Homo sapiens: one gene and its partners. The protein of the gene in region 1 purifies or fractionates together with the protein of each later gene. This does not show direct contact. Each region holds a gene or a part of one and is shown in the gene's direction. Other genes may lie near its edges.

The links. Proteins that work in one complex are often made in the same cells at the same time.
Region 2: the proteins of PHIP (region 1) and ASS1 purify together in Homo sapiens (affinity purification with mass spectrometry, with the first as the bait; one large-scale study listed by BioGRID). This does not show direct contact.
Region 3: the proteins of PHIP (region 1) and FOXP1 purify together in Homo sapiens (affinity purification with mass spectrometry, with the first as the bait; one large-scale study listed by BioGRID). This does not show direct contact.
Region 4: the proteins of PHIP (region 1) and OPA1 purify together in Homo sapiens (affinity purification with mass spectrometry, with the first as the bait; one large-scale study listed by BioGRID). This does not show direct contact.

What each region holds. Positions count from the first base shown.
Region 1 is NC_000006.12:79,075,455-79,079,422, reverse strand, and holds the start of PHIP (PH-interacting protein), read left to right. Parts: upstream 1-1,168; 5' UTR 1,169-1,354; coding exon 1,355-1,394; intron 1,395-1,509; coding exon 1,510-1,568; intron 1,569-1,693; coding exon 1,694-1,723; intron 1,724-1,915; coding exon 1,916-1,975; intron 1,976-2,156; exon of another isoform or gene 2,157-3,968.
Region 2 is NC_000009.12:130,475,961-130,479,460, forward strand, and holds part of ASS1 (argininosuccinate synthase), read left to right. Parts: intron 1-910; coding exon 911-1,001; intron 1,002-3,500. UniProt on the Homo sapiens protein: One of the enzymes of the urea cycle, the metabolic pathway transforming neurotoxic amonia produced by protein catabolism into inocuous urea in the liver of ureotelic animals.
Region 3 is NC_000003.12:70,975,229-70,978,728, reverse strand, and holds part of FOXP1 (forkhead box protein P1), read left to right. Parts: intron 1-699; coding exon 700-901; intron 902-1,006; coding exon 1,007-1,086; intron 1,087-1,686; coding exon 1,687-1,788; intron 1,789-3,500. UniProt on the Homo sapiens protein: Transcriptional repressor. Can act with CTBP1 to synergistically repress transcription but CTPBP1 is not essential. Plays an important role in the specification and differentiation of lung epithelium.
Region 4 is NC_000003.12:193,613,708-193,617,207, forward strand, and holds part of OPA1 (dynamin-like GTPase OPA1, mitochondrial), read left to right. Parts: intron 1-1,015; coding exon 1,016-1,334; intron 1,335-1,966; coding exon 1,967-2,063; intron 2,064-3,470; coding exon 3,471-3,500. UniProt on the Homo sapiens protein: Dynamin-related GTPase that is essential for normal mitochondrial morphology by mediating fusion of the mitochondrial inner membranes, regulating cristae morphology and maintaining respiratory chain function.

The sequences.
Region 1 (3,968 bases):
GGTTTACATCTCAAATTAGAAGCCATTAATTAGCATGACGAAGTCAACTGCAAGATACACAGATTATTTAAATTATTTAATCACTATTCACCTTGGCTAAACTGTAGTATACTCTTTCAATATCCTTAGGCAGGTTATCGATCTGTCACTAAATTACCTCCAGATCAGTTAGACATGAATATTAGCGTCCTTTCCTTTCCCTCAGGTTTACATTCTCCCTTCTCGTAAACACTTAAAAAAGCTTTAAGGTTCTTTAATTCCAAATACCTAATTAGCCATCACTAGCCTTTTTGTAATAAGGAAAAAGAGTATCTGAAGTACAAATCAAGAGTTCGCTTTGCCCGTTTAACAATAAAAAACATTTAAAAAACGTACGCCAAAGGCAATGGCAGTAATAAAAGAAATATGCAGAGGTGGCTTCAGCAAATAACGGGTTTGCAAAACGCAAGTGCTTAACAAAAAGCAGCCCAAACCTCTATTGCAATATACAGCACTCCAATAAATTACACAACACTTGCATAGGCTGCAGAAATAACGCAGGACAAGACTTACACAGATGCCAATCCGCAGCATTTATACACATGCACATGGCAAGAGACAGAAACCAAACACTATCATTCAACTCGGGAAGGGTAGCGCGATCCCGAGCTTGCCCAGCGTGAGAGTGCTCTCTGCGTGTGTGTCTGTGTACGCGCGTGAGTGAGACCCATCCTTGGGGCATTTCCCCTCTCTGGGCAGTTTTGCTTCATTTGTTTCATATTTCTGCTACATAGAAACTAACTTCCATCTCAGCTCCAGCCAGCGCCGCTGAATAGAGCCTGTGCTGCGGCTCCGTGTGCGTCAGATCCCTCCGCGGAACCGTCCCCGGCCCCCTCCCTGCCACTATCGGCCTCCACAGAGAAAGCGCCTTCCAGCCAACCGGCGGCTTGGGCTCCGACATCTTCTCCGACTGGAAATAAATAAATAAATCGCACGCCCTGCGGGGAGGAGCGGGTGGGGGTCTCACTGTGCCGCGTGCGGAGCGCTGGGGACGAGGGGTCGGAGGCACTCCTTTTTTAGCGCCGGGGGGCGGGGGCGCGGGCCAGAGCCGGGGCCGAGCCCTGGGCCGCGAAGGCGGCGGACTCCTTTCTGCGGCGGAGGGATCCGCGGCGGAGGCGGCCACGGCCGTAGTCGCTGCCTGAGAGTTGTTGTTTCCTCCTCCTCCTCCTCCGCCTCCGCCGCCGTTGCTTGAATGGTGGAGCCGAAGCTCGGCTCGTGAACACACACTGACAGCTATAGGGCAGGCGGCGGCACCGTCCCCGCTTCCCCTCGGCGGCGGGGTGTCCCGTCGGCGGCCCTGAAGTGACCCATAAACATGTCTTGTGAGAGGAAAGGCCTCTCGGAGCTGCGATCGGGTAAGTCGGGGGGCTGCCGGGGCCGCTGGCACCGGGCGATTCCGCCCGCGGTCCCCCGCCCCCCGCCGCCCGACCGCTCAGCCTGTGTGTCTCCCCGTCCCTCTCTCCCGCGCAGAGCTCTACTTCCTCATCGCCCGGTTCCTGGAAGATGGACCCTGTCAGCAGGCGGCTCAGGTACGGCGGCGCGCGGCGCGGGCCGGGCCGGCGCTCGCCGCTCGCGGGCGTGGGGGAGGGAGGCGGCGGCGGCGGGGCCGCGGCCCGGGGCGCGGGGCTCAGCTCTCCCCGCTTTGTTGTTGCAGGTGCTGATCCGCGAGGTGGCCGAGAAGGAGGTAAGGGCGGCGGCGGCCCGGCGCGTCCCGCCGCCGCGCGGCCGCCTCTGGGCCGCTGCGCCGCCGCTGCCGCCGCCGGCAGGGCGCGGGGCGCGGGGCTCGGGGTCCCCGCCGGGGCGCGGGGCGGGCGGGGGAGGGGAGCGGGCGGGTAGGGGCCGGGGGCCGGGCTCACGGGGTGTCCTCTCCCCGCAGCTGCTGCCCCGGCGCACCGACTGGACCGGGAAGGAGCATCCCAGGACCTACCAGAATCTGGTGAGACATTCACGTCGCAGAGCAAAGAAACTTTTCCCTGAGTCGAATAAAAATTGAATTTCCCGCAATTTTTTACAGAGACAAAAACTTGGCCCTAGAACGTGAAAGCTCCAAAGGCCATGGGGAGGGTTGGGAGGCCGGCGCGGGGTCTGCGGGGGCCAGTGGCCGGGGGTACTCGTACTTCGGGGCCGCAGGGGCTGCGGACAATTTATTTGTGATATTTTGTTAATGTGCTAGAAATAAAGATACGTCATGAGTGTTGTGCAGTGCAAGGCCGGAGGAGGAGGGGCCGGCGCGCGCGTCCGTGCGGGCGCGGGGGCGCGCGAGAGTCGGCGGCGGCGGGAGCGGCGCGAAGAGGGAGAGCGCGCTCGCTCGTTCGCTTGCTCGCTCTGCACGCGCGGCCGGCTCGGCTTTCTCCTGCCCTACACAATAGCTGGTGACTAACTGCTCCGAAGTGGCATTAGCATTTCACAAGCAGGCTATCCAGCCGCTGCGGTACCGTGGCAAGACATTATTTTTTCCCCCTCTGTCGTTTATTTTGTTTTCCTTAAATTCAGTCCTGGGTTTTTTGTTGGAAGGATTCTGATGTGTGATGATAGTTGGTCAGTGCTTCGTCTTGCATTTACTAAAACACATCTTTGCAGAAGTGTAAAGCCTGTAATTCCCTAAAACCAGAAGTTTAGTAGGCTTTTTTTAATTCTTATGGTATGCCTCTCGTTTAATTAAAAATTATTATTGGAGTACACTGAAGAGTTTTGATTTTTGTCCACATATTTACTGTGGGATGGAACTTGGCCTATGAAAGTTGTGTTTATATTGGGACATATTTTGTTTAATAGCTTAAAAACCTTAATTTTGTGGGTTGTCAAAATGAGTATTTTAGGAATCTTTAAAAATTGCTTTTCAGAAGTGGATTTATCACTTCAGTATTGTGATTGGAAGTTACTTTAAAGGAGCTATATTTTCTGTAACACTTTCTCCTAAACTGATACAGGTTCGTTGTGTGAATATGTGTGTGGGGCAGTTAAAGCAGTCGCACCGGACCCACCAAGCCTTTGAAATTTATGTAGTGTGTTGATTTTATGAGGCTTTTGTAACTGTTTTGAGATAGTTATGATTACTAATGTTACTTCATCAGAACTTCTCTAATGACTAGGAAGTTTCAGCGAGCTTAGAATGAGTGTCTTTTGTGAGGTGAAAGCAGGACATGATTATAATGGCGCTTTTTTTGGTATGTAGTGTATTTCCTAACTTTTGTGTATAAATCTCTTGTGGTTTAATATAAGATGTTGATAACCGCTCAAGGCTGTTGAAATAAGCAAGGGTACTGAGGTTTAATACATCTAATGGAGATTTAACAGTGTATTAGTGTATTCATTTTCACACTGAACGTGTGTTAATTTTCAAGGAGTGATTTGGGTTACTTTCATTCAATTCTTGGCCAAAGTGAATGGAGCTGGAAGTAAACTCCAAGATTTACTAATTTGAAATTAATTTTTAGGTTTACAAATACTTGATAGAAGTCTTCAGTGAATTTACATGTCTTCCTTGATATTTGAAAAAATTATCGCAAAGATTATAATACTCCATTTTTAAGATGGGGCAGGTTTTACAAAACTCGTCTTTGCATCTGCTTTTACATCTGTGCATCTCTTAAAAACCCACAAACCTTAAGTCACTGAGGAATGCTGCATTTTCTTAATCTTTTGGTAATGTTACATTTTTTAAATGAAGCAGCTTAATGTTATCTGGCTAAATTATGGTAATGGCTAATCCTCGTAGGAATATCATTTTGTTTTTTTGTTTTTTTTTTCAGTAAAAATGAGCTATCAATTTTGATTTTGAGTTAATTTAATTTTTGGGGGGAGGGTGGGGGGAGGAATTATTAGTAAAGTGAATTTCTATCCCTAGTCTGCATCGCAGATTTAAGATACAGTAAGCATTCTTTCTATCTATGTATTATGCTCAAAATTCACCTATTTTGAATGGAAGT
Region 2 (3,500 bases), on another chromosome or scaffold:
GTTGCCCAGGCTGGTGTCGAACTCCTGAGCTCAGGCAGTCCACCCACCTCAGCCTCCCAAAGTGCTAGGATTACAGGTGTGAGCCACTGTGCCCAGCCGTCTGCAAGGTTTTTAAAGCAAAGATGAGACAGCAGTTCCTGGATGTCAGCAGGTGAACAAGGACCCCAGGCACAGGATGCCCACAGGAGGGACCTGAGCAGTCAGGCCCAAGAGGCCCCAGTCCCCACAGTGGCAAATGTCCAAGCCACGGCCTGGGGGAGCTGGGGCCTCCGAAGGTGGGAGGGAATTTCGAGAGTTTCAGGCAACACGCAGCCCCTCCACCACTGCATCAGACGAGAGGCCCATTTTCCAACACGCCCAAGAAAAAATATACATAAAGGTTGATGTGTTTTCAAATGGGTTTTTGCTTTGCTCTTCTCTTTTCTCCCTGTGAGTATTAACCTTGGGGACCCTGGGGACGGCTCGGCTTGCCAGAGCACCTGCTGGGGTCACAGGCAGTCATTAGCTTTGCGGTCAGTGCAGAATAAACCCCAATCCCGAGCCGGCGAGAGCGTGCGTGCCGCTCCTGGGAAGCCCTCGGAACGCCGCCTTGCTCCTCCAAAGTCACACTTTTTCCTGCCTGACTTGTTCCTCTCCAGCTATTCTACCTCCAGCTGTGGGGGCGTCGAAGAAAAAGATGAGATCAAGTTGAGGGGAAAAATTGTCTGATTTCTCCAGCCCTTTGTTTCCCAGGCCTCTGGCAAGCGAGGCTGGTGCTAGGCTGAGGGCTGGGGACCGGGGGATCTGCCGGACCCCACCAGCTGGTGGGGAAATGGACAGAGGAGAGGGGTGCAGATCCCCGCGGGAGGTGGGCTGTAGGGTGTCCAGGGACTGGTATGTCATCTGCCCACCACTTTCTGTCTTTTTTCAGAACCAAGCGCCTCCAGGTCTCTACACGAAGACCCAGGACCCAGCCAAAGCCCCCAACACCCCTGACATTCTCGAGATCGAGTTCAAAAAAGGTATGTGCCCACCTGTTGGGACTCGAAGGGGGTTGACTTTTGGGGCCCTGGCTCCTTTCCCCTCCCTGCCTGGGAACCTAGGCCCTCTTTACCCCCGCCCTGCATTCCTGGAAGCTAGAGTTCAGGCAGGGGCTTCAAGGTAACGCACAGCCCACCTCCCTGGACAGTACAACCCATGGACCATGGATGCCTCTAGGCTTGGGAGGAACATGCCCTCGGCTACCCATCACTCGGGTTCATGGGCACCAGGTCTGGAATGAGAGCGCTCTAGTCCCTGAACAGCCACTCAACTTTCCTGGGCCTCAGTTTCCTCAGCTGTATCTGAGGATGAAAGAGTGCCTGCTGTTTTCCTGGGGTAGAATGAGGCCTGCAAGGGAGCGTCCAGCCCTGGGCCCTGACCCCGGAAGGTGCTCAGTAAACGGTGAGTGTTGGCGAGCTGGCCTCATGGACCCCTGGGACCCCACATGGAAAGCCTTCGCCAGTCTTCATTGAGCCGCTCTGGGCCTCACCCTGCTGACCCCACGTTCAAAGCTGCGGCCACTCTTGCTCCCCTCGGCAGTGGAGGCTGTCCTGATCGCTCCCTCCTTCTCACTGCTGTCAACAAGAAGCGTTTGCTGACCTGGCCTGAGTGCCTGGGTGCCTGAGCTTGGGAGAGGGCATCTCTTGGCCTGGAGGAAGGATGGAGAAGCGAGGCATGCCCGCCTGGGCTCAGAGGGAGGGCTCAGAGGGCGGGCTCAGAGGGCCTGAAGGGGTACCTTTTCAGGAGGCTGGAGTGATCAGGGAGGCTTCCTGGAGGAGGTGGTGCTGGGCACAGGGGCACCCAAGGACCAGGCGGGGGGCTGGCCCATTCGTCCACAAAGTGGCTGCCCACACTGGAGCTGGGATGAGAGGGAGAGAGGCTCGTGGAGAGGCCTGGCCCGGCTCTGGCGCTCGGCTCTTACCCCGGCTACCACAGAAAGGAGGATAGGGTGGGGAAGCCTCAGGCCGGTGGGGAGGCAGAGCTGCAGATCCCCCTCTCCCCCTTGCTGGTGTGACCTTGACAGCCAGCTTCACCATGCTGGGCCTTGGGTGCACTCATCAAAAAACGGACCACAGGCATGATGCTCACAGGTGCCCGGCATGGTATGTGGAATGGGGTGTCGGAGGCTAAGTGCTTTAATAATCTGCCTCTTCTGGGCCTTTCCCAAGAGCTTGGCCAAGCCAGCGACTGTCTTCCTTGCTCCCCTTCATCTGTCCCAACCTACTGGGGGGCCAAAGAGGACCCCAAAGGCAGCCGGGCCCCCAGGCCTGTTTGCAGGCACAGAGCCTCCCTTTAGGATCATCTCTGAGAAGATGGTGGGAGTGGCCCCAGCAGCACCTCCTGGCTCCCTGCACAGGGCTCCCAGGAGCCTGGAGAGCCGTGAGGGTGGGAGGCGGGTGGCAGGCTGCGGAGGGTCCTGGGCACCAGGCTCTGGCAGCCCTGCCCGAGGACCAGGGCAGCTCCGCAGGCTGAGCTGGAGAAGAAACGTGACCTATTGTCATGATTTGGGGACTGTCTGGAAGAAGAAAAAAAGACCGGAGGAACCCTCCCCTGGCTAGTGCCCATTCACTCTCTAGTTAATTTATTTGAAGTTTTAATCTAATTATTAACTATTTTAAAGGCTAAGAGGCTTTCTCCAGCAGCAGCACCAACAATGTCACCTCTTCTCCCGGGCAGGCCCCATCTAAGGCCCCAGCGAAGGCCGATAATAGGACCGGGGAGGGAGAGAAAGGGAGAGAGGAGAGGCGGGGGGTGGTGAGAGGGGCTTAAGGTTCATTATTGGGCAGACTTACATTTAATAGCAATTTACAACCAAGTTATAAAACCCCTGGAAATGGGGGTTAAGAATGGCGAGGCTGACAGCGCCTTGAGTGAAGCCCCTCCAAGCGGCGCCTGGCTAATAAAGCCTCGAAAGCCGCTATTGAGGCCTGATTGGCACCCGATGGCTCGCTCCATGGTAATGAGCCGGGCAGATGGGTGGGGGATTAGCCGCCAACTTTGAACAGCTTTTCTTTGTCACTGTTTCAGCTCTCTTGTTAGCCCCAATACATTTATTGCTCATTTCACACCGCTCGAGAAAGTGCCCCTTGCTATTCAAAGTCAACCCCGAACCCACCCACTGCCCCCACCCAACCCCTTCCCTCCTGCCACCCCGGACCCAGCTCCTCGGATTCAGGGACGCTGCCGACACCTCGCCTGCTGGAGCGGGCACCGTGTCACCCCCATCAATCAGATGGCTGCGTGTGGGTCTGGGGTACAGGGTCGGGGCGCGGGGTCCGCCTGACAGACGTGGCAGGGGGCTGTGTGTGTGTGTGTGTGTGTGTGAGCGAGTATGTGTGTGCTTGAGCCCAGCCACACCTCGGCCAGGCGGCCCCCGGGTGACTGGTGGGACAGAAGGTGCTCCCGGCGTAAGACAATGGTGGAGCGTGAAATTCAATTAGTTCAGGGCCTGGTTCCAATTTCACAGCCCCTAAATGCAA
Region 3 (3,500 bases), on another chromosome or scaffold:
AACAAATGACAGCTGGTGGGGTCAGGCCCATTGTGTTTAATATGAGTAATAAATAGGCCACACATATTTGCAGGAGTTCTCGTCATCCACGAAGCTGCATGAGGGAGCTCAGTAGGCTCTTCCTGGGCTGTCTAGTATGGTAGCTACTAGCCACATGGGGCTCTTTCCATTTACATTTATTAAAGTTTAATTTTAATAAAAATCAAGTAAAAACAGCTCTTTGGTTGTGCTAGCATATTGCAGAAATTCTGCTGGACACTTCTTCAGATCTACACCAGCGTATCCCAACTGGTGTCACCTAAAATACTCAGCTTCACTGGTATTGCTAAGGACTTCTCTCCCTCTTTGAGGTTGACAAGGCCTGATGGGCGATCAAAGCCTATAGGTGAGACATCACAATGAAATAAATGTCTTGACTCAGGGTTTCTCACACTCCCTCAGGTAGGTAACCCCTTTTTGAGCCTGTAAACACCCATGTAGCAGCCTTTGGAAAAGAGACCGCTGCCAGAGATATCTTACACTGCATCCTAAGTGAATTCACGCAGGACTCACCGTGTGTTTCGGTTCATGGTAAACATACCATCTACATAGAGGAAGAAACGGTGCCCACGCATCCTCTGTGTTACTCCTGCTAGATGTGGTTCCTGGGTTGCTCTGGTTTTCTGAAGGTCTTCTAAGACGTTGTTTTTTTCCTTGCAGTTGAATCTGGTATCAAGTGTCACTCTCTCCAAGTCCGCATCGGAGGCTTCTCCACAGAGCTTACCTCATACTCCAACGACCCCAACCGCCCCCCTGACTCCCGTCACCCAAGGCCCCTCTGTCATCACAACCACCAGCATGCACACGGTGGGACCCATCCGCAGGCGGTACTCAGACAAATACAACGTGCCCATTTCGTCAGGTAGATACTCCACCTTTTGCCTCACGTAGAGTTGTAATCTGCAATTCTTGTAGACCAGCCCCTTTTGAAAAAGTGATAATTAATAGGACAATGATTCTTATTCAGCAGATATTGCGCAGAACCAAGAATTTTATAAGAACGCAGAAGTTAGACCACCATTTACATATGCATCTTTAATTAGGCAGGTAAGTAAATAACACAGTATATGAAATTCTGTCAGAAGGTATATGTGTACATGGATATATATTGATGAAGTAGATTTAAAAACCGTTTAGTATGCAAGCATGCTGAAACCTTTTCTATAAGGTTTTTTAAAACTGCAATATATAACATAATTGCTTTTGATTAAGTATTACAATACGATGTGATTATTAGGAAATTCATTTCACACAACAGTGAAAATGAGCCTGTTTAAAGATGGCAAGTCAATTATCACAAGCTACAGTAATCTCTGATCCCTAGAATTAATCTGAGCTCTAAATAATTACTGAGCTTTAATCAGCTAGTGAAATGTTTTGCATTTCTCTTTGATTCTGCTTTATGAATGACTAATAAATTAATATTTCTGTACGGAAACAGAAATAAAAACTCAAAACAATTAGATAATTCCATTTTGAATTTTGCTATTGAACTGTTAAATACAACCATTAATCTTAGATCATTTTGTAAAACCTTTCTCAGGATTTAGCTCTGAATCACAGTGATTTTATATTTTCGAGAAACTGTGGAATGACGACTCTGCTGATTTGGTCATAAATTATCTTCTGTTACATTCTGCTTCACAGGCCATTCTCGAATCTCCAGAAAAGCAGCTAACACTAAATGAGATCTATAACTGGTTCACACGAATGTTTGCTTACTTCCGACGCAACGCGGCCACGTGGAAGGTAAGCTTTCTCAGGCCTGTTTATTCTTGGATCTTGACGTTCATAGAACAGTTTGTTGTTGATAAAATGCAGTTGTGCTATAAGGAAGCTACATTTATATTGTTTTGATACTCTTAAAGTGTCCAATCTCTAGGTGTATTTGATTGGGAAAATAGTGCCATTGTGGTTGAAATGCTCTGATGGAAGACTCCCATTATACCAGCATCAGCAGTGTGGAGGGGCCAGCCAGTAAAGTGATCTCTCTCTGGTTGGAATATGTAGAGAAAAGGAGACAACACCGTCGCCCAGAAGTGGAGGTTGCCATATTACTTGCACAAACCTCATGCCGTTAGGTCTTCAGCCACAGCCGATATTTGCAGAGATGTATCTCCAGCGATCTATCTCCAGAGATGGAACCTGGAGAAATGACCAAACTTGACACAGCCTTCAATGGTTGGATAAATAGCTCATTAACCCAATTAGTAGAGAAAGCTGTGCAATCCAAGCACTAGCACTGTTTGTAGGAGTTATTAATGGAGAACACAATGTATTATTAAGGGGCAGGGGTTTTTGTTTTTCTTTTTTTGGTTTTAAGTCAAGAGATTGTCGGCCAGGCACAGTGGCTCATGCCTATAATCCCAGCACTTTGGGAGGCTAAGGCAAGAGGATCACTTGAGCTCAGGAGTTAGAGACCAGCCTGGGCAACGTAGCGAGACCCTGTCTCTACAAAAAAAATTCAATGAATTAGCCAGGCATGGTGGCATGCACCTGTGGTCAACAGCTACTCCAGAGGCAGAGGTGGGACGATTGCTTGAGGCAAGGAGGTTGAGGCTGCAGTGAGCCCTGTTCATGCCACTGCACTCCAGCCTGGGCAACAGAGCAAGACCCTGTCTCAAAAAAAAAAAAAAAAAAGGAGATTGTCCCTCATAGATATACTAAGGAAGAAAAGTAGATTTCGAACTTCATTATATTCATTATAATACTATTTGCTGTAAAAACAAGTCAAATTGCATAGCTCTTTATTGGATGCCCCCAGTAGTGCTTGGGGTCATATATGGCTTACCTCATTCCCAGGTCAGCAGCTGGCTCAAAGATTCCACTGGTATTTACTCCCTTATATTAGATTGATCCCTCACATATTTTTGGGCTTTCCCATTTTTGATTTCTTGGTGTCTAATATTCTTGCTTATAGAAGGGGACAGGTACACTCTGTCATTTGTATTTTTGCATTTTTTACTACCTGGAATTCTTGTAATCCCTGAAATCCAAAACATTTAGAGACATGTGATAACAAACATTTGAGGCTATTTTTACATGCCATTAATCTAAATATGATAAGGATGTGTTATAGGACACAAGGAAAACTTCCTTCGCCTGAAATAAATGCCTTCCTTGCTAATTCCTTAATTTTATACCGGAGAAAAACCAAAGCAAAAGACAGAAAAATACATTTCCTCTGTTAAGTTCCTGATAAATTAGCATTTTAAAAGAAAACGAATATAACCATAGAATTAATTCATCAACTTTACAGAGCTGTGAATATCCATTATGGCCCAAATTATCCTTTCATTTCCATTAAGACACATGGGCACTGAAGGGAACCTATGTTCAAAATCTTACCCTCTTTGCCTCAGCCTGCCTTGGAAGATAAAATATGAAAGGATCTTTAGCCATGAATGCTTTAAAAAATTTAGGAAGTCGAAGCATGAGGCAGACATTTTCTTCAGATTGCC
Region 4 (3,500 bases), on another chromosome or scaffold:
GCTGGGATTACAGGCACACACCAACACACTCAGCTAATTTTTGTATTTTTAGTAGGGATGGGGTTTCACCATGTTGGCCAGGCTGGTCTTGAACTCCTGACCTCAGGTGATTCACCCACCTCAGCCTCCCAAAGTGCTGGGATTACAGGTGTGAGCCACCACACCCTGCCTCCTTCTTAAGAAGTTTCCAGTCCCTTGTAATTAAAGGAATTAATATTTTTTAACTACTTAGAATCAGACTGGCCCTGATTATTAGTAAGCAACTAATAGTAAGCAAGCAACTATGTATGCAACTATGAGTGTATGTTAAGATATGGTTGTTGGTAACCTTTCATTCTCTTCAGGAAGAAGAAGAGGGTGGAGCTCTACAGTCAATGTGTACATTTAAATTCTGTTCCCTTTCGAGCTTTTTTGCTACTTTCATTCTTCTGGGGATCCAGGTGCTTGAGTTGGGATTGATTAACTTCCTTAATTTCCACCCCTGTGCTGTCAGGATCGGGAGACATAGATGAAGGTGTTCTAAACTGCTAGAAATTTTGTTTTTGAAAGCAAAAGTTTGCATGCATTTTTGTTTTCAACTTTTACTTACAGTGAATAGTAGTTAATAAAATAAGTCCCTGCCTTTTCTCTCTTTGGTTTCAATTCCTGAGACCAGGATCATAGCCCACATATTAGAGTGGAGTCCCACTGCTTTGGTTTGAATCATGCCTTTGTTTCTTATGTCAGTGTGACTTTGGGCAAGTTATTTAAGTCTTTGCACCACATTTTCCTCATCTGTAAAATGAGGATAATACTAGTACTTTCTACATGGGATTGTTAGCAGGATTAAATGAGATAGCACATACTGTAACCATGTCTGGCACATAGTCAATGGTTAGTAAATGTGAACTATTGTGTGACATTGTGGTTAGTCACGTATGGGGCTGTGTTTCCTTTAGTATATTGCTCTTTTAATGTCATTTCCTTTGTACTGTTACCCTCTCTGATCTTTCTTCCATATTCATTTTTCTTTCAGTGAGGTCTGCCAGTCTTTAGTGAAACACAGCTCTGGAATAAAAGGAAGTTTACCACTACAAAAACTACATCTGGTTTCACGAAGCATTTATCATTCACATCATCCTACCTTAAAGCTTCAACGACCCCAATTAAGGACATCCTTTCAGCAGTTCTCTTCTCTGACAAACCTTCCTTTACGTAAACTGAAATTCTCTCCAATTAAATATGGCTACCAGCCTCGCAGGAATTTTTGGCCAGCAAGATTAGCTACGAGACTCTTAAAACTTCGCTATCTCATACTAGGATCGGCTGTTGGGGGTGGCTACACAGCCAAAAAGGTGAACTTGACATTCCTCCTGGTTTTCCAATTATTATATCATGATTAAGTTTCTATAGCATAAATCATTTTTGTGTAGTGGAATACAATTGGATGTTTAAACATTTATTTTGTGTCTCTACCATGGACTAGATTGTTTTAATGATGCTAATAGGAAGATGCCTTTAGAATCTTAGTTATAATTACAGGAAATTAAAATGGCCTAGTGGAAGGAGCACAGGGCTGGGAATAGGAACACCTAGGTTTGATTTTGAGCTTAGACATTTAGTAGCACAGATGTGAAAGTCAGGTGGCATTCTCACACAAGCACTTCTTGGCAGGTCTGGGACCAGAGGCAAGGCGTCCTGTCTCCCAGTCTGTCTTCCTTCTACCCCACAGTAATATTTAGGGCAAAATTATGAAACCTGTTTGAAATAGGAGTATATTCTGAATTTTTACATTTTCCATATTTAACAGAGGAGTGTTAACTTGTTTTATATGCTTGTTTGCTGAGACCACTTAATTTTGTTTCTTAAAAGTTTTGAACATAATACATTATTCTTAGTAGATTAATGTGTTTTAATTAAATAATTTTTCTTTACATGTTTATTTGGCATGCAGAGCATCTGATTGACACACTTTCTTGTCTTTTAGACTTTTGATCAGTGGAAAGATATGATACCGGACCTTAGTGAATATAAATGGATTGTGCCTGACATTGTGTGGGAAATTGATGAGTATATCGATTTTGGTTTGTATCATGAACATTAAAATACTTTTTTTGGTCATCTCGAGGAAAGAGAAATAGTTTATTGAGATAGTTTCTTAACTTATGAACCTAATATATCACGGTTTTATTTTAATGATATAAGTAATAGAATATCAATGAAAAAATCTGTATAAAAGAAATACCCAGTAGCCCATAATTTTACCACAGCTGCCACTAACTGTTTGGAGCATTTTCTTTTAATTATACTTACTATATGTGGTTAGTATCTTTTTAACTTATCGATTGAGACAGGATCTTGCTCTGTCACTCAGGCTGAAGTGCGGTCTTGGAATCATAACTCACTGCAGCCCTGAACTGGCTAAAGTAGTCCTTCCGACTCTGCCTCCCAAGTAGCCGGGACTACATGTGTGTGCCACCATGCCCGACTGATTTTTTAATTTCTTGTAGAGATGAAGTCTCACTATGTTGCCCAGGCTAGTCTCAAATTCCTTAGCTCAAACCTCTCACCTCAGCCTCTCAAAGCACTGAGATTACAAGTGTGAGCCACTATGCCTGGCTTGAGTTTTTTTCTTTTAATTTTTTTCTTTTCATGAATACTACCACAGAATAGTATTTTAGTTCCCTTTTTAAAAATTATGTAATCATGGTGAATATTCACTTTGGTATTTTGTCTTTTGCTACCTAACATATTTTGTCAGCATTTCCATGCTGCCAAGTAGCCTTTCTATTAATAATATCATTTTCTGCATTATGTAATGTTGCCCAGAGCATATTTATTGTGACCCACCTAGCTAGCTCCTTTTGATTGGATACCTTGGTTATCTCTACCTTTTGTAGCCAAGTTCTTTAAAAGTCTGTTAGTATCCAGGGTAATTTCTTTTCTTAGTTGGCCACTGCCCTCCCTTTTTCAATAGGTGGATGAGAAAAAAGTATATTGGATCGCTATGATTGCCAGTAATTCATGGTGATCTTTAAGAAATATATTTTCATCAAATTTTTTTAAAACCTTTGTCAGATTTCTTAGTTTAGGTGTATGTGGAGGTGGAATTAATCTATACTTGCACTTATTCACAGAATTTATAAAGATAAAACTGTTCTATGTTGACGAATCCATTTGCAAAAAAAGCACACTTTCAAATTGTTCTTCTAATATTAATGAGGAGAGCTTTCAAATTGATGTATTTGCCAGTACCACAGCGTAGTGGCTGAGAGCCTGTATTCTGGAGCTGGACTGCCTGGGCTGGAACCCGGGCTCCTCCACTTCCTTGCTGTGTACCTTAGTTTCTCATCTGTAAATGGTGTTGATAATAGTAGCTGTTTTGTAGGGTTGTCATGAGGATTAAACAAGTTAATACTTTAGCCCTTTATAAGAATAGTATCTGACATATTTTCTTAGTTTCATACTCTATATGTTTTGATCTTTTCCAGAGAAAATTAGAAAAGCCCTTCCTAGTTCAG